7 linked regions of the Homo sapiens genome follow. The protein of the gene in region 7 interacts with the protein of the main gene of each other region in a biochemical or structural test. Each region holds a gene or a part of one and is shown on either strand. Other genes may lie near its edges.

Evidence for each region.
Region 1: the proteins of ATF2 (region 7) and ETS1 form a complex in vitro, tested with the Homo sapiens proteins (one study listed by BioGRID).
Region 2: the proteins of ATF2 (region 7) and CREBBP form a complex in vitro, tested with the Homo sapiens proteins (2 studies listed by BioGRID).
Region 3: the proteins of ATF2 (region 7) and NCOA6 form a complex in vitro, tested with the Homo sapiens proteins (one study listed by BioGRID).
Region 4: of the proteins of ATF2 (region 7) and ATM, one has a biochemical effect on the other in vitro, tested with the Homo sapiens proteins (one study listed by BioGRID).
Region 5: of the proteins of ATF2 (region 7) and MAPK1, one has a biochemical effect on the other in vitro, tested with the Homo sapiens proteins (3 studies listed by BioGRID).
Region 6: of the proteins of ATF2 (region 7) and MAPK13, one has a biochemical effect on the other in vitro, tested with the Homo sapiens proteins (2 studies listed by BioGRID and IntAct).

The regions. Positions count from the first base shown.
Region 1 is NC_000011.10:128,486,559-128,490,058, forward strand, and holds part of ETS1 (protein C-ets-1), read right to left. Parts: intron 2,933-3,500; coding exon 2,732-2,932; intron 1-2,731. UniProt on the Homo sapiens protein: Transcription factor. Directly controls the expression of cytokine and chemokine genes in a wide variety of different cellular contexts. May control the differentiation, survival and proliferation of lymphoid cells.
Region 2 is NC_000016.10:3,724,554-3,727,633, reverse strand, and holds the end of CREBBP (CREB-binding protein), read left to right. Parts: 3' UTR 1-2,580; downstream 2,581-3,080. UniProt on the Homo sapiens protein: Acetylates histones, giving a specific tag for transcriptional activation. Mediates acetylation of histone H3 at 'Lys-18' and 'Lys-27' (H3K18ac and H3K27ac, respectively).
Region 3 is NC_000020.11:34,749,152-34,752,651, forward strand, and holds part of NCOA6 (nuclear receptor coactivator 6), read right to left. Parts: intron 1,369-3,500; coding exon 252-1,368; intron 246-251; exon of another isoform or gene 1-245. UniProt on the Homo sapiens protein: Nuclear receptor coactivator that directly binds nuclear receptors and stimulates the transcriptional activities in a hormone-dependent fashion. Coactivates expression in an agonist- and AF2-dependent manner.
Region 4 is NC_000011.10:108,327,567-108,331,066, forward strand, and holds part of ATM (serine-protein kinase ATM), read left to right. Parts: intron 1-78; coding exon 79-192; intron 193-1,454; coding exon 1,455-1,672; intron 1,673-2,647; coding exon 2,648-2,855; intron 2,856-3,500.
Region 5 is NC_000022.11:21,791,146-21,794,645, forward strand, and holds part of MAPK1 (mitogen-activated protein kinase 1), read right to left. Parts: intron 1-3,500. UniProt on the Homo sapiens protein: Serine/threonine kinase which acts as an essential component of the MAP kinase signal transduction pathway. MAPK1/ERK2 and MAPK3/ERK1 are the 2 MAPKs which play an important role in the MAPK/ERK cascade.
Region 6 is NC_000006.12:36,140,513-36,142,766, reverse strand, and holds part of MAPK13 (mitogen-activated protein kinase 13), read right to left. Parts: 3' UTR 1-2,254. UniProt on the Homo sapiens protein: Serine/threonine kinase which acts as an essential component of the MAP kinase signal transduction pathway.
Region 7 is NC_000002.12:175,158,204-175,161,703, forward strand, and holds part of ATF2 (cyclic AMP-dependent transcription factor ATF-2), read right to left. Parts: intron 1-3,500. UniProt on the Homo sapiens protein: Transcriptional activator which regulates the transcription of various genes, including those involved in anti-apoptosis, cell growth, and DNA damage response.

The sequences.
Region 1 (3,500 bases), on a different chromosome or scaffold from region 7:
TATATTGCAGTCTTTAGGCCATAGATTTTACGTTCTCCATTTCCTCTAACAGATGTCTGGTTTTTGTTTTGTATTTTTCCCATTGCCCTCAGGTTTCAAGTTCAGGCCCAGACAAGAAGCAGGACACTGGTAAGGTGACTCCATTTGGTGAAATGCGACTGCGCTTGTGTCAAGGGAGAGAAGAGCAACCCAGTCAAGCTCCTGCCCAGATGCCAACTCCCCTAGGAAAAGGAGAGGAAGGGAGACGAAGTGCACCTGCGGACAGAAAGCTCTGAACGACCCTGCAGTAAGCCTGGGATCCTCTAATTACCCTGGAACAAATGCCATGGCTCCGATTCTTGTATGGAGTAGTCTGATTATATTTCACCATAAGAATCTGACATAGAGTATGGGTTTGGGTTTTTCCTCAGGTATTTGATAGCTTGTTAGGAGCAAAGTCTGATGGGAAAACAAGTTTATGCCTGCACAGAAAAACAGTTCCCAGTTGAGATAAAATGATTAAACTTTGCTTTAGCAGTTTATCAGATTGAAACATCCCCGTACCTTTCACCTTCCACCCCACCCCAAACAGCTATGTTCTTTTGCTGCTGTGTTGCTTTAATTACAGAACAAAAGCTGTAGCCTCAGCACAAACATCATGCTCATCTCTTCAAGTAACTGAACCTGAAGAGGGAGAATTCTTTCTGCCTCTCTCAACAGAATATTGGGTGGGAAGATATGACTTTTGCTCTCAAACATACTGACTTATATCCTAATTCTCTTAAATTTTCTTACATTATTCCTTTACCCTAAGTGAGGCCAAACCAGTCTTAGCGGCCAGAAGGCCCCTGTGAATCCACATTATTATACAAAAAGCACAGGATGGGATGTTAAATTTTAAGTTAAATAAAAATATATTGAGGGCAGGCGCGGTGGCTCACGCCTGTAATCCCAGTGTTTTGGGAGGCCAAGGTGGGCAGATCACGAGGTCAAGGGATCAAGACCATCCTGGCCAACACGGTGAAGCCCTGACTCTACTAAAAATACAAAAATTAGCTAGGCATGGTGGCATGCGCCTGTAGTCCCAGCTACTCAGGAGGGTGAGGCAGGAGAATCGCTTGAACCTAGGAGGCGAAGGTTGCAGTGAGCCGACATCGCGCGACTGCACTCCAGCCTGGGTGACAGAGCAAGACTCTGTCTCAAAAAATAAATAAAATAAAATAAAATAAAAATATACTGAAAGTTGAAATAAAATGAAGAAAAGGAGATGAGTGATACTGAAGAAATCGCCTACCCTGAGCTTCATTTTACAGACAAGGACAATAATAGGACTTGTCCTTACTATCTCACAGTTATTTTGATAATCCAAAGAGAAAATGTATTTGAAAGCACTTTGGAAACAGGGAGACATGATAGAGATATTAATTGTAACTACAATCAGAGATGGGCTTAGATAGCCCAAAACACCTAGCAGCTCCATTTTGATAAATGGAGGAAAACAGCCTCTTAGTAGAATATACTGGGTTACACAGTCTGATTGAATCTGCTATTGTGTTTAGAAGTCAACAGTCAAATCAGATCTGTTAGGAGCCTGCCGTATCGTTTCCCTCTATAAACAGGTCGCTCATGTCAACACCTATGAGTGGGTGTCTGTGCATGGAGAACATGCCGGTGCTTTGCAACTGCCTGCCATCCTCGGTAAAAGCAGCCACAGAAAGACTCACCTAGTTCTTTCCTGTATTCCTTTATGTCTTATTTTTCAACAGAAAGTGAAAAGAAGGAATAAAGATAACATTTTTGAGCACAGAGAAATCTAGTTTGGGTCTCTCTTGAGCACTGCAGAATGGAATATATTCTTAACCAAAGGAAGGTATAATGCGGGGTAAAAGTGCTAATCCTGAGTTTTGCTCCCCTCCCCCAGCGTCTGTGCCAAGGGTTAGAGCTGATGACCACAGGGAAAGGATGGGCCTGGGTTAGAGAGGGCAATGGGCTTCTAGGCTTACAGTCAGCTGAAGGGCACTGCTGACTGCTGGTAACTGCAATTTATTTTAAGAAAAAATTCAAAAAAATAAGCACAAAAACACCCAAGTTTGCCGCCTGCTGCTGTTTCTATACTCAGCCAGGACTGTGGTACATGAGTCACTTGGTCCAAAAAGGTTGGAAGAGGCTGTTAGGGGAGGCCATGTCATTATAAGGTTGCAACATAGCGTCCTGATATAACCCCAGTTCCTGCTCCAGATGTAAAAGGTATGATGCACTACTGCAATTCCAATTCAGTTAGTGGGCAGAGAAATCTGTCTTATTAATACGGTCTCAGACGCTAAGCTTTCCCGGGATGTGATGAGGTATTATGGGGCATGCATCAAGGCAGTGTGTATTAAGATTGCAGAAAACAAAAACAAAAACAAAAACAAAAACTATTCTTGGGTTGGCTGTGGGCACTGCTTGTTCAACCAGGGCATGGGTTTGAGATAAGGACCTGGATTAGAATGTTGCAATCCAAGAAGCTTCAGTGGTACAATCTTGCTGAAGATTAATATCTGAACCCCCAATATGTAGAAGAAAAAGAAATTACACTCATCTAAGAGTACCTGCTGTATGCTGAGCAGTGTACTAGGCACATTCCCACATACGTCCTACAGTAGGACACCCACAGATAAAGGCATTGACGTCCCACCATTGGGTGAGCCCCCTACCTACTCTCACAGCAACCCCACATAACCTCCACCTCTCTCTGTTTCCACATATTTACCTTTCTGCAGGATCTCTAGATGTTCCCATAAGATGTCCCCAACAAAGTCTGGGGCCAGCTCGAGAAAGCAGTCTTTACCCAGGGCGCAGAGGGCTGCTCCATTCATACAGAACTTCTGGAAGTCTACACCTTTCAGGCTGAATTCATTCACAGCCCACATCACCCAGTCCCGAACATGGGTTTCTGTCCACTGCCGGGGGTCTGAGGAAAGAGATCAGATGAAGATCCAGCAGGTCGGGCTTTTAACTCCTATCCAAGCCTCAGAGAGGACACTGAAGGAGCTGAATTTAGCTGAGAATGCTATCTTTATTCATCGAATGAGGAAGCATCAGCCTAGCCTGCACATCATTGAGTGCCTTCCATAACCCTCCCCTCCATATTCAACATCTCCGCCTTCTCTATTTCACCAGCTAGGAGGTCACTACTGCCAGCCAAAAAGTACCACATGAGTATTCTCTGTCCTTGCAGGCAAAGATTTCCATGAATCTCCTCTCTCACTGCCTTATTCCCATTGGACTTTTTTAAAGCCCTGAACAGAACAAATGGCTTCTTTAATAGCAATAATAACAAGAGATTGCTCATGCCTCTCCCTGCTCTTAACTATAATATACTTGAGACTATTATTCTCGATTATTTTTTATCTTAGCCAATTATAGTGGTAACAATTGTAGCAATTAGTAGTAGTCATTCATTCAAATGGCACTTGGTAATAACATTATTAGGTGCCTGTATTATACCAGATACTCTGCAAAGTCTGTACTTATCATAA
Region 2 (3,080 bases), on a different chromosome or scaffold from region 7:
AGATGGAACTGCGACTTCCGAGCCATGGAAGGGTGGATTGATGTTTAAAGAAACAATACAAAGAATATATTTTTTTGTTAAAAACCAGTTGATTTAAATATCTGGTCTCTCTCTTTGGTTTTTTTTTGGCGGGGGGGTGGGGGGGGTTCTTTTTTTTCCGTTTTGTTTTTGTTTGGGGGGAGGGGGGTTTTGTTTGGATTCTTTTTGTCGTCATTGCTGGTGACTCATGCCTTTTTTTAACGGGAAAAACAAGTTCATTATATTCATATTTTTTATTTGTATTTTCAAGACTTTAAACATTTATGTTTAAAAGTAAGAAGAAAAATAATATTCAGAACTGATTCCTGAAATAATGCAAGCTTATAATGTATCCCGATAACTTTGTGATGTTTCGGGAAGATTTTTTTCTATAGTGAACTCTGTGGGCGTCTCCCAGTATTACCCTGGATGATAGGAATTGACTCCGGCGTGCACACACGTACACACCCACACACATCTATCTATACATAATGGCTGAAGCCAAACTTGTCTTGCAGATGTAGAAATTGTTGCTTTGTTTCTCTGATAAAACTGGTTTTAGACAAAAAATAGGGATGATCACTCTTAGACCATGCTAATGTTACTAGAGAAGAAGCCTTCTTTTCTTTCTTCTATGTGAAACTTGAAATGAGGAAAAGCAATTCTAGTGTAAATCATGCAAGCGCTCTAATTCCTATAAATACGAAACTCGAGAAGATTCAATCACTGTATAGAATGGTAAAATACCAACTCATTTCTTATATCATATTGTTAAATAAACTGTGTGCAACAGACAAAAAGGGTGGTCCTTCTTGAATTCATGTACATGGTATTAACACTTAGTGTTCGGGGTTTTTTGTTATGAAAATGCTGTTTTCAACATTGTATTTGGACTATGCATGTGTTTTTTCCCCATTGTATATAAAGTACCGCTTAAAATTGATATAAATTACTGAGGTTTTTAACATGTATTCTGTTCTTTAAGATCCCTGTAAGAATGTTTAAGGTTTTTATTTATTTATATATATTTTTTGAGTCTGTTCTTTGTAAGACATGGTTCTGGTTGTTCGCTCATAGCGGAGAGGCTGGGGCTGCGGTTGTGGTTGTGGCGGCGTGGGTGGTGGCTGGGAACTGTGGCCCAGGCTTAGCGGCCGCCCGGAGGCTTTTCTTCCCGGAGACTGAGGTGGGCGACTGAGGTGGGCGGCTCAGCGTTGGCCCCACACATTCGAGGCTCACAGGTGATTGTCGCTCACACAGTTAGGGTCGTCAGTTGGTCTGAAACTGCATTTGGCCCACTCCTCCATCCTCCCTGTCCGTCGTAGCTGCCACCCCCAGAGGCGGCGCTTCTTCCCGTGTTCAGGCGGCTCCCCCCCCCCGTACACGACTCCCAGAATCTGAGGCAGAGAGTGCTCCAGGCTCGCGAGGTGCTTTCTGACTTCCCCCCAAATCCTGCCGCTGCCGCGCAGCATGTCCCGTGTGGCGTTTGAGGAAATGCTGAGGGACAGACACCTTGGAGCACCAGCTCCGGTCCCTGTTACAGTGAGAAAGGTCCCCCACTTCGGGGGATACTTGCACTTAGCCACATGGTCCTGCCTCCCTTGGAGTCCAGTTCCAGGCTCCCTTACTGAGTGGGTGAGACAAGTTCACAAAAACCGTAAAACTGAGAGGAGGACCATGGGCAGGGGAGCTGAAGTTCATCCCCTAAGTCTACCACCCCCAGCACCCAGAGAACCCACTTTATCCCTAGTCCCCCAACAAAGGCTGGTCTAGGTGGGGGTGATGGTAATTTTAGAAATCACGCCCCAAATAGCTTCCGTTTGGGCCCTTACATTCACAGATAGGTTTTAAATAGCTGAATACTTGGTTTGGGAATCTGAATTCGAGGAACCTTTCTAAGAAGTTGGAAAGGTCCGATCTAGTTTTAGCACAGAGCTTTGAACCTTGAGTTATAAAATGCAGAATAATTCAAGTAAAAATAAGACCACCATCTGGCACCCCTGACCAGCCCCCATTCACCCCATCCCAGGAGGGGAAGCACAGGCCGGGCCTCCGGTGGAGATTGCTGCCACTGCTCGGCCTGCTGGGTTCTTAACCTCCAGTGTCCTCTTCATCTTTTCCACCCGTAGGGAAACCTTGAGCCATGTGTTCAAACAAGAAGTGGGGCTAGAGCCCGAGAGCAGCAGCTCTAAGCCCACACTCAGAAAGTGGCGCCCTCCTGGTTGTGCAGCCTTTTAATGTGGGCAGTGGAGGGGCCTCTGTTTCAGGTTATCCTGGAATTCAAAACGTTATGTACCAACCTCATCCTCTTTGGAGTCTGCATCCTGTGCAACCGTCTTGGGCAATCCAGATGTCGAAGGATGTGACCGAGAGCATGGTCTGTGGATGCTAACCCTAAGTTTGTCGTAAGGAAATTTCTGTAAGAAACCTGGAAAGCCCCAACGCTGTGTCTCATGCTGTATACTTAAGAGGAGAAGAAAAAGTCCTATATTTGTGATCAAAAAGAGGAAACTTGAAATGTGATGGTGTTTATAATAAAAGATGGTAAAACTACTTGGATTCAAAGATGGTTCAGATTGGCTAATGACTTACAGTTAGCTCAACGGCTCGTCATTATAGGATTGCAGATGCGGGCCCGGTGCGGTGGCTCACGCCTGTAATCCCAGCACTTTGGGAGGCCAAGGCGGGTGGATCATGAAGTCGGGAGTTCGAGACCAGCCTGGCCAAGAAGGTGAAACCCCATCTCTATTAAAATACAAAAAAATTAGCCGGGTGTGGTGGCAGGCGCCTAGAATCCCAGCTACTCAGGAGGCTGAGGCAGAGAATCGCTTGAACCCAGGAGGCGGAGGTTGCAGTGAGCCGGGATCGTGCCACTGCACTACAGCCTGGGCAACAGTGAGATTTTGTCTCAAAAAAACGATTGTAGGTGGTGCTGGCCGGGCTTGGTGGCTCATGCCTGTAATCCCAGCACTTTGGGAGTCTGAGGCGGGCAGATCACATGGTCAGGAGTTTGAGACGAGCCTGGCCAATATGGTGAAACCCCATCTCTACTACAAAAAATACAA
Region 3 (3,500 bases), on a different chromosome or scaffold from region 7:
ATTAAAAAGTGTCCTTATCTTTTAGAGACACACACTGAAATATTTACCCAGCGAATTTGCTTTGAAATACTCAAAAGGGTAATGGAAGAGAGTACAGATGAAGGCAAGACAGACTATGAGTTGATAATTATTGAAGCAGGGGGATTTCATTATACTATTCTAGTTTTATATTCTGTAAAATTTTCCATCAAAAAAGTTATCCACACAGAAAACAAATGAATAAAATTTGAGGCAAAACCATCACAACCTACTTTAGATCTTGCTGACTATTTTTCTTCTTCCGAGGGGGTTTCTTCTTCTTCGGTTTATTTGCGTTGGTATTATTTTGCTTATTGTTTACCCCAAAATGGCCTGCAGATATGTCACTCTGCAATAAGTTGACCAACAATGGGCTCGTTAGCGTGACATCCTTATTGACTGGGAAGCCTGGATTTTGACCACAGGACATCTGATTTCCATTGGGAGCTCCACTGAAAGGTGCATTGAAAGACATCCCATGGCCTGAGAAGTGGTTTCCCGAGGCACTGTTTCCCTGCATGGCCTGCACATGAGGGGGGACCATGTTGGTTTGTTGAATGCTAACATCAGGCATCATCTGAGATAAACTGACATCGTTATTTGCTGTAGTAGCAGGATCACCATGCTGCTGGGCCATGTGTGGGCTGGGCCCTGGTGGCCGCAGGACCTGTCCCTGAATGCCCATAACCTGAGATGGACTGTTGTTCACAGGCCCTTGCTGGGGCAGCATCTGTCCTGACATCTGTCCCGTAAACTGCACCATATTTCCTTGCATGTTTGGAGTTGGTCCCCTCATTATCTGGGCTGGTCCCGGCATGACATTGGACTGGTTCTGAGTGTTAAACTGCTGCTTATTCCCCTGCATTTGATTGGTCATAATCTGCTCTATCATTGGGTTCTGTTGGAGCAAAACCTGCCCCTGAGGCCCCATCATCTGGTTATGTGGCGCCATCATTTGTGGGCCCTGCTGGGAAAGCATCTGCTTGGGTGGGGTCATCCTTTGGGGCGAGGGCCCAAGATTTTGGCTCGGGGGGTTCACCATCATCTGGCCCTGTGGCATAAGCTGGGCCCTTGAAAGGATCATAGGGTTCTGAGGGTTCAAGGTTCCTTGTTGCTGGACCATCTGGCCCTGGGAGGGCACGATTTGCTGGTGCATGCCCATCAGCTGAGATGGTGGGCCCTGCTGGGGCTGGCCTTGCATGTTGCTGAGGTTCACTTGAGGAACCCCAGAAGTACCAGCCTGCTGATTGTTCATGTTGCCATGAATTCCCATGAGGCTGGGCTGCATCATATTTGGCGGCCCGTGGGACACCTGCATCTGGTTTTGAGGAGGACCAGCTCCTTGACCACCTTAAAAAAAAAAAAAGTCACAGTTTCAGAAATAAATATTTTTATCTTATTGGTATTAAGATACTCAAGTTACATTACTCAGAAAGACATCCATCACCCTTATATCCACTGACCAACATAAATATGCTGTTGACATACTTCCTGTGAGTTTTCTAAACTACAAAGATGTGGCTGTGGGATAACTGCTTACATTCCCAATGACCATATAATAGAGAAGGAGAAACAGTTTCTACATTCCCATATGGTATCTTAAAGATTTAACGTTTCAAAGATCAAGAAAGTTTACTTTCTTTCAGATTAAATAATGAGAAAGGCAGCATCTCACTGTTTTAAAATGACTTGTAGTGGCCAGGCTCGGGTGGTTCATGCCTGTAATCCCAGCACTTTGGGAGGCTGAGGCAGGCGGATTGCTTGAGCCTGGGAGGTGGAGGTTGAAGTGAGCCAAGATCATGCCATTGCACTCCAGCCTGGTGACAGAGTGAAACCCCGTCTCAAAAAATTAAATTAAATTAAATTCAAAAAGCACTATGGGCTACTGAAATAACTCTGCTATAAGAATGTGAAGTGTCGGCCGGGCGCGGTGGCTCACGCCTGTAATCCCAGCACTTTGGGAGGCCGAGGCGGGTGGATCACGAGGTCAGGAGATCGAGACCATCCTGGCTAACAAGGTGAAACCCCGTCTCTACTAAAAATACAAAAAATTAGCCGGGCGCGGTGGCAGGCGCCTGTAGTCCCAGCTACTCGGGAGGCTGAGGCAGGAGAATGGCGTGAACCCGGGAAGCGGAGCTTGCAGTGAGCCGAGATTGCGCCACTGCAGTCCGCAGTCCAGCCTGGGCGACAGAGCAAGACTCCGTCTCAAAAAAAAAAAAAAAAAAAAGAATGTGAAGTGTCCTCTTAGGAAAACCTCAACAATCATGAGAAGACATTTAAAAATGCTTCTTGGAAAACTGTAATAATAATGACTCTCAAAAGCTATGTGTGTGATATGTGGATGCTGCACTTCAAAGAAAATAACACCAAGGACAGGTGTCCTCTGCCCTGATGTGGTAAAAAGCAGTTAATCTTGATCTGGAAGCTGAGCCTCTGGTGGGAGCCAACTGACTAGATGACCCATCTGGAAGCTGCAAATAGAGGAATAATAAAACCTCAGTGACCCTCTCCTGCGCAGTCCCTGGTGAATCATGTGGCACATGTTTTAGTCTTCTCAGCTATTTCTAACTTAGACAAAAGTTGCTACCCGCCTTGCTGTAGTGCTTATTTATTTACTGGGTCTTTGGGATTTTCCTATAGCTACTTGCATTATCTCCCCGTTTAACTGAATAACTTTGTAGTTAATTTTGTCCCTTTTATTTTTCACTTTTTTTGTTGTTTTGTTTTTGAGACAGAATCTGGCTCTGGTGCAACCTCGGCTCATTGCAACCTCCACCTCCTGGGTTCAAGTGATTTTCATGCCTCAGCCTCCCCAGTAGCTGAAACTAGAAGCGCACAACAACACACCCGGCTAATTTTTGTATTTTCAGTAGAGACAGGGTTTCAGCATGTTGGTCAGGCTGGTCTCGAACTGCTGACCTCAGGTGATCCACCCGCCTTGGCCTCCCAAAGTGCTGGGATTACAGGCTGAGCCACCGCACTTGGCCTTATTTTTCACTTTTAAATGGGGACTAGAAAATCCCCTACAATGAAGTTATGAAGCCAGTCCATGCTCCAACTATGAAGGCAGGGGGCAAACTACCTTGTTCACACTATCCAGACTTCTCCTGAACTCTAAGGAAGATTTTCTAAACCAGCCTTATAAACTCAAAGTGGAACTCCATGACCATTGTATATGCTTGTATACAATAAATATACTGTGTATATTCATTCAACTGACAATTATTCATTAAGTACCTGATACATAGAAGGCACTTTGGTGCTGAGGTAACATCAATAAACAAGACAGACCAAATCCCTGCATCCTTGGAGCCTACAGTCTAACTGGCAAGAGACACAACTAACAAACAGACAAGTATTTTTTCAGGAAGCAGTAAAAGCTAACAAGAGAAAGTAGGGTGAGAGAAGAGAAAGTAAGAGATAAGAGTAGAGCTACTTTAGATAGGATAAATGGGGAAACCAAAACATGTACACGTGGGCCG
Region 4 (3,500 bases), on a different chromosome or scaffold from region 7:
TTTTCCCCGTACATGAAGGGCAGTTGGGTACAGTCATGGTAATGCATTATATTTTAAGATTTTGCCTTTCTTATACAGAACAATCCCAGCCTAAAACTTACATACACAGAATGTCTGAGGGTTTGTGGCAACTGGTTAGCAGAAACGTGCTTAGAAAATCCTGCGGTCATCATGCAGACCTATCTAGAAAAGGTAAGATTTTTGGAGCAACCCTTAAGATAGTTACTTAGCATGAATATGCTTCATCTTTTCATCAAGATCAATATATTTCCAAAGCAAATAAAAGTATGGTTTTATTTTTCTATATATTATTACTGTTGTAGCTCTGTATAGTCTCTAGGGTGGAGTGAAACATTGTTACAAAACAAAGCAGCCAATTTTGAAAGTAAGCCCAAGTATAGTATCTCTTCTTCCTCCTTCCTACCTCCACTACCAGCTACCCTTTCAGCAGGTTGCTTCTGATCATTTCTTCATTTATGCATCTACAAAAATAACTGATTAAGAATAGGCAAGTCAGCCCTTGCTCTTCATTAGCCCAGCCACCCACAAGTAAAGGCTTCAATATACTAGCCCCTTTGACTTTCCTGTTTCTCCCTCTTATTCCTTTAGATTCACTAATTTTGGAAATAGTTACCTCACTAAATAAGTGTAACATGAAACACATGATGCGATTGTCTTTCTTTTCTTTTCTTTTCTTTGAGATGAAGTCTCTCTCTGTCGCCCAAGCTGGAGTGCAGTGGCGCAATCTCGGCTCACTGCAACCTCTGCCTCCTGGGTTCAAGCGATTCTCCTGCCTCAGCTTCCCAAGTAGCTGGGACTACAGGAGTGTGCCACCACACCCGGCTAATATTTTTTATTTTTAGTAGAGACGGTTTCGCCACATTGGCCAGTCTGGTCTCGAACTCCTGACCTCAAGTGATCCACCTGCCTCGGCCTCCCAAAGTGCTGGCATTACAGGCTTGAGCCACCACACCCAGCCTGATTGTCTTTAAATTTTATAAAGTTCTCTGTTTTTGCAGAGTTCTTTACAAGTATTAGCTGTCTGGGTTATTTCTACACTGTCAAAGTTGTTTTGAAAAGTCAAGAAAATACCATAGTTCAGGGCTGTCCAATCTTTTGGCTTCCCTGGGCCACATTGCAAGAAGAATTGCCTTGGGCCACACATAAAATATACTAACATTAATGATAGCTAATGAGCTTAAAAAAAATCACAAAAGAAATCTCATAATGTTTTAAGAAAATGTACGAATTTGTGTTGGGCCACATTCAAAGCCGTCCTGGGCCACATGCGGCCCATGGGCCGTGGGTTGGACAAGTTTGCAATAGTTCATATAATTTAGCTAGCTTTTATATGTATATAAGTTAAATTTTAGTGTATTACCTTAATTTGAGTGATTCTTTAGATGTATTTAGTATTTGTAAATATAATTTAAATTGGTTGTGTTTTCTTGAAGGCAGTAGAAGTTGCTGGAAATTATGATGGAGAAAGTAGTGATGAGCTAAGAAATGGAAAAATGAAGGCATTTCTCTCATTAGCCCGGTTTTCAGATACTCAATACCAAAGAATTGAAAACTACATGAAATCATCGGAATTTGAAAACAAGCAAGCTCTCCTGAAAAGAGCCAAAGAGGAAGTAGGTCTCCTTAGGGAACATAAAATTCAGACAAACAGGTAACTAGGTTTCTACAAGTGACAATTTTATGTTCACCAGTTAACTGAGTGAGTGTTTTTGCATAGAAAGAGTGACTTGGTCTTTTTATCTGATATAGTTTTGAGCTCTAAAGGTCGGCTTAACTATATATAGATTATCTTGGTCTTTTGGGTTCTTTTCGGTTTTTGTTTTTTGTTTTTTTTTTTGAGACAAGGTCTCACTCTGTCACCCAGGCTGGAGTACAGTGGCGTGATCACTGTACTCCAGCTCACTGCAACCTCGACCTCCTGGACTCAATTGATTCTCCCCCTGAGCCCCCGAAATAGCTGGGGCTACAGGTGCACGCCATACCTGGCTAATTTTTGTATTTTTTGTAGAGATGGGGTTTTGCCATGTTGCCCAGGTTGGTCTCAAACTCATGGGCTCAAACGATCTGCCCACCTTGGCCGCCCAAAGTGCTGGGATTACAGGTGTGAGGCACTGTGCCCTGTCTGTCTTGGTCCTACTGTAGTTAATCACAAATTAGTATGTAAGATATTGACGTGTTCTTTTGTGAATAATTCATGCTCTGCTTCTAAGTTCATTGTGGAGAATATAGATATTAGCTTTCTGTTTTGCTTTTTTGGTTTGTTTGTTGGTATCATAGTGGAAAAGGAGATAGATATTGAAATTAATTACAAAAGTTACCTATTTTGATGTAATTAAATCCCTTTATTTAAGCCTGTCTTGAATCTGTATATTTTAGTGTAAGCAGAGGTGTAAGTTAGCTAAATAGCTTGGGGAGAGTCCCCTTTGTCCTTTGATGCTTAGGAAGGTGTGTGAATTGCACAGTTAAGACAAAAGTAAGTTTATTCCCTTTATAATCCTTAGAAGTTTGCTTTTTTCCCTGGGATAAAAACCCAACTTTTTTCATTAAATGTTGTATATCATGTGTGATTTTGTAGTTCTGTTAAAGTTCATGGCTTTTGTGTTTTACCTTAATTATTCTATGCAAGATACACAGTAAAGGTTCAGCGAGAGCTGGAGTTGGATGAATTAGCCCTGCGTGCACTGAAAGAGGATCGTAAACGCTTCTTATGTAAAGCAGTTGAAAATTATATCAACTGCTTATTAAGTGGAGAAGAACATGATATGTGGGTATTCCGACTTTGTTCCCTCTGGCTTGAAAATTCTGGAGTTTCTGAAGTCAATGGCATGATGAAGGCAAGTGTTACTCAGCCCAATATTCTACCCTGTGCTTGAAAAACTTAGACATAAGCCCCTTGATGTCAGGAATCGTGTATACCTCTTTGTATTCCTAGCACTTGGTCCAGTGCTCTACACATAAGTAGCATTTTGTAGTTTTCTAAACTTTGATCCATATTTAGGATTATTTACAAGTTCTAGTCTTGTTTCTACAAAAGTTCCTTTGTATTATATAAGCTGACAAGCTGTAAATGATGCAAGTTTGTGTGGAGGTGATAGAATTTAGCTTGGTCCTATGTCTTTGCAGTTACCATAGGAGAGGGTCTAGAATGGGGCATTAGATTGGAGGATTTAGAAAGCAGTTAAAGATGATGTGATCACAGGTGGGTTTTCCCCCTGCTGCAGAAATATGGGATTTTTACAATAAATTACTTTTGTAAGTAGAGAAAATATATTTTTCAGAAAATGTCAAGACAGCAGTATTGTATAAGTTTTTCTTTGAAAACCTTAGATTATAGTGATGACACCTAATATTAAATTTAAGTTGACAAGCTATATATTGTTAGTCAATTTGAAGGTTAGAGATAAAATGTTTCTCCTGCAGGAAAATAATAAGACTCATAATAGATACAGTCAATCTCTGCTGTAGTATACACTAAATAT
Region 5 (3,500 bases), on a different chromosome or scaffold from region 7:
GAGTGCAATGGCACGATCTCAGCTCATGCAACCTCCACCTCCTGGGTTCAAGCGATTCTCCTGCCTCAGCCTCCTGAGTAGCTGGGATCACAGGTGCCTGCCACTATGTCCAGCTAAATTTTTTGTATTTTTAGCAGAGACAGGGTTTTGCCATGTTGGCCAGGCTGATCTCGAACTCCTGACCCCATGTGATTCACCCACCTTGGCCTCCCAGAGTGCTGGGATTACAGGTGTGAGCCACTGTGGCTGGCCTGCGAACCTGGTCTTAAAACAAGCAAGCAAACAAGCAAACAAACAAAACTCATGACAGTACAACATGTGAACCTGTGCCCAGGTCGGGGGGTGGTTTGGGTGGGGTATAGTTCAAAGGTTATTGGGATAATATCTAAAATGTGAATATAAACTGTGCATTAGATACTGAATCAGTATTAAGTTTCTTGATTTTGAAAACTGTACTGTGGTCATGTTAGAGAATACTCTTAAGGCAGGGTTTTTCAACCTCGGTATGACTAACATTTTGGGCTGAGAAAGTTTCTGTTTGGAGGGCTGTTCTGTATATCGTAGGATTTTTAGCAGCATCTCTGGCCTCTTGATGCAGGGAGTACCCCTACCCCTCACTGTGACAACCCTGCCACATGTCCCCAGGGAACAACAGGACCATGGTTTGAAGTAAAGACATACTGAAACAAGGTGAAGGGGTGTATCTACAATTTACTCTCAAATGACTCAGAGTGCGTGGGAGTGCCCACACACATGCACACAAAGAATGATAAAGCAAATGGGGCAAAAGATAAAAAATCGGTGAGCCTGAATCTGGGGTAAAGGGTATTTAGGAGTTCTATCTGGCGGTTCTACAAGAGTGTTCCAGAGACTCCTATGGGTTCCCTCTAGAGGATCTGAGAGGTCACAGTACATTTATTATACTACTATGACATTTTCATCCTTTTCAGTCACGAGTGAAAAGAAGATTTTTCCAGATGCAATATGATGAGTGATGATGTGTACATGAAAATGTGACACTTGGAATATCTGTGTAACTCAGTGAACCAGTATTTTCCAAATACGCTAAAAAATCATGCATGAGTATGAGTGCAAGGTAGACTAATGGATTTTAACGAAATAGTATCAAGAATTCACTGATATGATTTCAGATTCCACACTGCAATTAACCTTTAAGAAACCACCACTTGTTTAAACTGGGGGTAGGATCAAAGAATAGCCACAAGTGGCTGAAAAGACTACTAAAATTTCCCTCCTTTTTCCAGCTACATACCTGTGTGAAGAGTTTTCCTCTGGCCATACCACCCTGAACACGCCCGATCTTGTCTGATCTCGGAAGCTAAGCAGGGTTGGCCTGGTTAGTGCTTGGATGGGAGGAATAGATCTTGAATTTCATAAATAGCACTCAGACATCTATTTTTAGGCTTATTTGTAAATGTCTTGATAAAATGTCTGATTACTGTTACATACTAGGGAAAAATCTCACTTTTTTGTGTGTTATGCTTTTAAGCATAGATTTTGTTTGCTAAAATGTTATTTAGAATTTTGCATGTATTTTTCACTGGCTTGCGATTTTTCTTTTTATATAACATCTTTTTTAAAGGGTCTTTATTAATATTGCACTCAAGTTTTCTTCTGTTTTCTATGCTCTGAATTCAAGCAGTTAAAATCCATGGGAAAGAGTTTTCCTTGACATTTTTGAAGAACTATGCATGTAATATTATATTGATTATTAAATTGATTAAAGCCTGAAAAAAAAAAAAAAAAGAGTTTTCCTCATGAACTTAAACCAAAACAACATATTTGACAGACTGAATGCAGAACCAGATGAGAATCCAACTGTCTTCTATTAAGCCAGACATTAAAGAGACTTGCAAAAATGAAAACAATGCCACTCTTCTCACTAAAAGGTTGTTTTTCGTTTTGCTTTTTTTAAAGACAGGGTCTCACCCTGTTGCCCAGGCTGGAGTGCAGTGGCGTGATCACGGTACACCGCAGCCTCAATTTCCTGGGCTCAAGAAAATCTCCCATCTCAGCCTCTTGAGTGGCTGGAACTATAGGTGCACACCACCATGCCCAGCTGATTTTAAAATTTTTTGTACAGATGGCAGGGCACAGCAGCTCACACCTGTAATCCCAGCACTTTGGAAGGCCGAGGCAGGTGGACCACAAGGTCAGGAGGTTGAGCCCATCCTGGCTAACATGGTTAAAACCCTGTCTCTACTAAAAATACAAAAAAATTAGCCAGGCGTGGTGGCGGACGCCTGTAGTCCCAGCTACTCGGGAGGCTGAGGCAGGAGAATGGCGTGAACCTGGGAGGCGGACCTTGCAGTGAGCTGAGATCACACCACTGCACTCCAGCCTGGGTGACAGAGCACGACTCCGTCTCAAAAAATAAATAAATAAATAAATAAATTTCTTTTTTGTACAGAGTCTCACTATGTCACCAGGGCTGGTTCCAAACTCCTGGTGATCCTCCTGCATTGGCCTTCCAAAGTGTTGGGATTATAGGTGAGAGCCATCATGCCTGGCCTCACTAAAACGTTTTTATTGTAGAAAATAAACTTATTCTTAAGAAAAACATGTAATTTATCTTAACATGTAGTGGGTTTACTATTTAAAAATTAATTAATACATTTTAAAGTTTCATATTGTAGGCCGGGTGTGGTGGCTCATGCCTGTAACCCCAGCACTTTGGGAAGCCGAGGCGGGTGGATCACCTGAAGTCAGAAGTTCAAGAGCAGCCTGGCCAACATGGTGAAACCCCATCTGTACTAAAAAATACAAAAATTAGCCGGGCATGGTGGTACACACTTGTAGTCTCAGCTACACGGGAGGCGAGGCCGGAGAATCATTTGAACCCGGGAGGCAGAGGTCGCAGTGAGCCAAGATTGAGCCATTGCACTCAAGCCTGGGGGACAAGCGCCAGACTTCTCTCCAAAAATTAAAAAAAAAAAAGTTTCATATTGTAAATAACAATAGATATAACCTACGTAACTAAAAAAAGGTGTGTGGGTCCTTGACTTTTTTTTTTTTTTTGAGACAGAGTCTCACTCTGTCACCCAGGCTGGAGTACTGTGGCAAGATCTCGGCTCACTGCAACCTCCACCTCCCAGGTTCAAGCGATTCTCCTGCCTCAGCCTCCAAGTAGCTGGGATTACAGGTGTGTGCCACCATGCCCAGTGCATTTTTTGTATTTTTAGTAGAGACAGGGTTTCTCCATGTTGGCCAGGCTGGTCTCGAACTCCTGGGCTCAACTGATCCACCCGCCTCGGCCTCCCAAAGTGCTAGGATTATAAGTGTGAGCCACCATGCCCAGCTGGTCCTTGATAATTTTTAACAAATGTAAAGGGATCTTGGCTGGGCGCAGTGGGTCATGCCTGCAATCCTAGCAATTTGGGAGGCTGAGGTGGGTGGATCAGTTGAGCCCAGGAGTTTGAGACCAGCCTGGCCAACATGGCAAAACCCTGTCCCTACAAAAACATACAAAAATTAGCCGG
Region 6 (2,254 bases), on a different chromosome or scaffold from region 7:
AGGAGGACACCAGAGGATGAAGCGGGGGGTGGGGTCTGGGAGTCTGAAATAATAGAGATTTTCAGGAGAGCAGCTCAAAGGTACAGCCCAGGGCCGCCCACTTCTGCTTCCTGCTGGGCTCTCTGCCACCTTCCATATGACATTGGCCTGGTCGGGGCAAAGAAGTGACCGACAGGCCCCTGGGACATCTTTCACTCATTATTCATTCACGCACAGGTATTTGCTCACAGTGGGCAATGGGAAGGGGAGGCCAAACCACACACTAAATGCTGCCCACAGAGGGCCTGCAGCCCAGGGGGGATGATGGAGAACAGCTGCCTGGAGGGAGGCCTAAGGTAGAGCCTTGAAGGCCAAGGAGAATGGAGAGGAGAATGGAGGGCCTTCCACGCACGGGCACTAAAAGAAGGCCAAGCCTACTTGGGGAGAGGCAATATCGGGACCTGTGCACTGGGCTGCACTGGGCAAAAAAGGCTATGTGTGTCATGCTGTTGGGAGAAAATGGGTCCTGCGGTTAAGTACATCTGGGAAGTTCTGGATTAAATGAGGAACGGATCTCTTTACTGCAGGACTTGTCAAGACCTTTAACCTGTGAATGCAGAATGAACCTTACGGTGGATCCCAGGACTGGTGTCCCACACTGACATAAGGACTAGCTAGGGGAGGCAGTGGGAGCTGATGAGATTAGAGAGAACACAAGGGGTTTTGAATGCCAGGCCAAGAAGGAAGGCTAGACTTTTTCCTTGGGGCAGTGAGAATTCTCAGGAGGCTTAGAGGGATGTAGACTCAGGGAACCTGGGGCAGTTTTAGTAACCAGCGAGGCCAGGGCTGTGGCAAGACTAGCCAGTCCCAGTCAAGGACTCCCCAGCTCCTTGACAGCAGGGCCATTCTGTGGGAGAGAAAACAGAGACCATGGACACAGTCAGCAGTAAGGGTCTCAGACTGGCGTGAAGAGGGAAGGCTGGGCAACCCTTGAATCCAAGCTGGGTACAGTGCTCAAGCCTACTTGGGTTCCAATCTGACTCCACCACTTCCTAGCTGTGGGTGTCTGACCCAATGTCTCTGTGTCCTCAGGGTATTTGTTTTTTTTGTTTTTTTGAGATGGAGTCTCACTCTGTCACCCAGGCTGGAGTGCAGTGGTGTGATCTCAGCTCACTGCAACCTCCACCTCCCAGGTTCAAGCAATTCTGCCTCAGCCTCCCGAGTAGTTTGGGATTACAGGCATGCACCACCAAGCCCAGCTAATTTTTGTATTTTTGGTAGAGATGGGGTTTCACCATGTTGGCCAGGCTGGTCTTGAACTCCTGACCTCAAGTGATCCGCCCACCTCAGCCTCCCAAGGTGCTGGGATTACAGGCGTGAGCTACTGCGACCGGCCTGTGGTTTATTTTTTAGAGCAGTTTTAGGTTGGTAGAAAGTATAGAGGTTCCCACCTACTTCCTCCCCTTCTCTCTCCTCAGTTTTCTTGATGAGTAACATCTTGCATTAGTGTGGCACAATTGTTACAATTTATGAACCAATACTGATACATTATTATTAACTGAAGTCCATAGTTTACTTGAGGGTTCACTCTGTGTTATCCAGTCCTACAGATGGTAACAAATGCACAATAGGTATCCACCATTACAGTATTATACAGAAGAGTTTCAAGGCCTTAAAAATGCTGTCTGGGCCTGCAGGGTGGCTCATGCCTATAATCCCAGCACTTTGGGAGGCCAAAGTGGGAGGATCACTTGAGTCCAGAAGTTCAAGATCAGCCTGGGCAACATAGAGAAACCCCGCCTATACAAAAAAGAAAAAAAATGTTTTAATTAGCCACCTGCAGTCCTGGTGCACCTGGGTGGCACAGACCTGTAGTCCCAGCTACTTAGGAGGCTGAGGTGGGAGGATGGCTTGAGCCCAGGAGGCTGAGGTTGCAGTAAGATGTAATTGTGCCACTGAACTCCAGCCCGGGTGACAGAGCCAGACCCTGTCTCAAACAAACAAACAAAAAAAAGCTTTCTGAGCCTCAGTTTTAACACCTGTAAGATGAGTGTGAAACTCCATCTGAAGCCCCCCAGTCTCCTCCTATAGGTTTTTGATTTAGGCCTCCCAACAAATCAAGTATGACTGAAATCCACTAAATGTCTCGAACTATGGTCTGATATCCATCAGAATCACTAGGCTTGGGTCAGGGCGAGAGGTCCTCATTCAAATGCACATTCTAAGGTCTCAACTGCAGACCTGCTGAGTCACAAGCCCTGGGGTGGGGCCCAGG
Region 7 (3,500 bases):
CTCTCAAGACTAAAGTATTTTGAATTCAGGATTTTTTTTTTTTTTTTTTTTGAGACAGGGTCTTGCTCTGTAAGTACAGTGGCCCAACCATGGCTCACTGCAACCTGGATCTCCTGGGCTCAAGTGATCCTCCCACCTCAACCTCCTCAGTAGGCGGAACCACAGGTACACATGCCACCACACCCAGCTAAATTTTTTTTGGAGTGACCGGTCTCACGATGTTGCCCAGGCTGGTCTTGAATTCCTTGAGCTCAAACTCTTATTTTAAATTATCCAGGGATAATTTTAAAATGGATAACTTAAAATGGATATTTTAAATGGATAATTTAAAATAAGAGTGCCTTAAAGCTTCCTGATCCTACGGCAAGAAGCAAACGTCTGGGGGGAACACTGGAAACTGAGGTCATCTCTACAGGAACCCAAGTGGATATTTTAAATGGATAATTTAAAATAAGAGTGACTTAAAGCCTCCATTAATCAAGGCAATGATCCTCCTGTATTAGCCTCCCAAAGTGCTGGGATTGTAGGTGTGAGCCACTGCCCCTGGCCAGGAAAATTTTAAATTGTATGATTACACTATGATCCTCTACAGTAAAAAAAAAAATACATTTCAGGGCTATCAAAATATATAAAAGTAACATATGTAAAATACACAGAATAGTGCATGACACTAAAATAGTATTTATTAAGTTCATAAATTTTACTGCATTTTACTTTGACTTTAAATGTACATTTTTCTAATGCCTAATAAATACCTAATCTTACTATCTTCTTTATTTTTAAGGCCAGAAACTGAACTACATACTCAGTTTGACTTTTAGATAAGAGTTTTGGCCAGGCATGATAGCTCAACCCTGTAATCCCAGCACTTTGGGAGGCCAAGGTAGGCAGACTGCTTGAGGTCAGGAGTTCAAGACCAGCCTGGTCATCATGGAGAAACCCCGTCTCTACTAAAAATACAAAAAAATCAGCGGGGCGTGGTGGCGGAGACTATAGTTCCAGCTGCTCAAAAGGCTGAGGCATGAGAACTGCTTGAGCCTGGGAGGTGGAGGGTTCAGTGAGCTGAGAACCTACCACTGTACTCCAGCCTGCGCGACAGAGCAAGACTCCGTCTCAAAAAAAAAAAAAAGTTTTATATTAATCTTTAACCCATGATTCTGATGCTATCTGTAAGTTTATTTGATATATAATGTTTAGTTCATCAATTTAGGTAACTCAAATTCATCAGCTGAGAGAAAAATATTAAGCCCAATGTTAACAAGGAAAGCAGCAGTATTTTTTCCCCCACTCACAGCAGACATGAGAGAGGTCCTTCACACAATTCCCAAGAGTATACTAAAATTTTGATGAAATTTCTCAAAGTTGATGGTACACGTAAAAAGTATCACAAACTTCTCCAGACTGTATTATGAGTATGTGAAGAGTGAAATCAGTTCAATATCTCAAAAATATTCAATTAAAATATCAGTAGTCCAATTTTTAAATTAAATATTTTTTAAGTGAGTCTTGATTATTCCTAGGCAATGTAAAGAAAGCAAGTAGTTTTATAGTTTAAAATTATAATAGAATAACAAATACATAAATACAAAAAATTTACAGAGTAATAATTATGAATATAAACAACAGTAGCACAAGTTGTGCTAATAACATCACCTTAGATTTGGTAACAGAATTATGTGGTCTAAGGTCCATAGCATTATTTTTGCCCAAGGTAGGTGATAAAATACCTTTCATTGCTTTTTTTCTCCTGAGAAACTTATTTTTTGTAAAAGCAAAAAGAAAATAGAAATAGAAATTCAGTTCTCCAAGAATTACAGTAATTCATAGTCATCACCATTATGAAAAATACATCAATAAAAATTTCTCATTATGAAGAGGGCACAAATAAAATACACTACCGGCTTGGTGTGGTGGCTCACGCCTGTAACCCCAGCGCTTTGTGAAGCTGAGATGGGAGGATTACTTGAGGCCAAGAATTCAAGACCAACCTGGGTAACATAGTGAGACTCCATCTCTACAAAAAATTAAAAAATTAGCTGGGTATAGTAGCACATGCCTGTAGTCCCAGCTACTCGGGAGGCTGAGGTGGGAGGATTGCTGAAGCCCAGGTGTTTGAGGCAGCAGTGAACTACGACTGCACCACCACACTCCAGCCTGGGTGATAGAGACCCTGTCTCTAAAAATGAAATAAAGTAAGACTATGGATTATGTACTATGCCCATTAAAACAATGATAAGCTCACCTCTTTCTTCCGTTTTCAAAGTATGTCAAAATTCAAGTAAGTAAAGTGTATTACTACAAAAAATATCCCTCGACCCAACATCCATATATCAACAATCATTAAAACCTACCTTACAAATGATAAAATATTTCACTGATTCTCAACTTTGTGGCCAAAAATTGATAGTGTAGTTATAATTGTATAATTAGCAGAGACTTCAAAACAACTTTAGAACTGTGGTATTTTAATCATAATCTCAATCCCACTATGGGGAAGGAGAAATGAAAGGTTTCCCTAGAATGTTTATAATAGGATTGGTGGAGTAGAAGAAAAGAATAGTTGGGGTGGGGAGCAGCCTGTAATCCCAGCACTTTGTGATACTGAGGTGGGAGGATCGCTTGAGCCTGGGAGTTTGAGACCAGCCTGGGCAACGGCAAGACCCCATCTCTACAAAAATTTAAAAACTAGCTGAGTGTGGTGGCATGTGAGTGTGGTCCCAGCTATTTGGGAGGCTTAGGTGGGAAGATCTCTCGAGCCCCAGAGGTGGAAGCCGCAGTGAGACTTAGTCGCATCACTGCACTCCAACCTGCATGACAGAGTAAGACTTTGTCTCAAAAATACAAAGATAATTGGATTTTATGAAAATCACAGTATCATAATTTTATCATCTTAAAATAAGGATATGCTATACTGAAGGAATTTGATACAGAAAATGTCTGAGAAGGGGTACATATGGAACAAAAAAATATGAGACATTCTCTCAAATGAATTTACGAAAATTCTAAGGTGGCATGTTCCTCCACAAATTATAAATTCTTAGGGAAAAATAACTTTGTTGCCAAAGCTACCAAGTAGATGGTTGCTGTACTGCTTTCAAGCTACAGCACAAGCATGCCTGGAGGGCTAGGCTAGATTATTTCTGAATGAACTTCAATAATAATTCCCACAACACAAACTGAGTACTCATTAAGTTCTTGACACTGTATTAAGTATTGTATATATATCACATGAATGCTCACAGCAAGACTATGAGTTAAATTATTCTCCTTAAAGAGAAGGAAACTGAGGCAGAGAGGTTATATAATTTACTCAAGATAACACAGTAAGTGGTAGACCCCTGATAATCTGGCTTCTAATAACTATCCTAAAATATTGATTACACACTTAACTATGTGCCAGGGACAAAACTCAGTCAATTTGGCTATCATATACTCATATACACTTTCTTTATTCCAAGTGTTTCCTACATGGAAATGAATTTGTCATTATAAATCTTAAT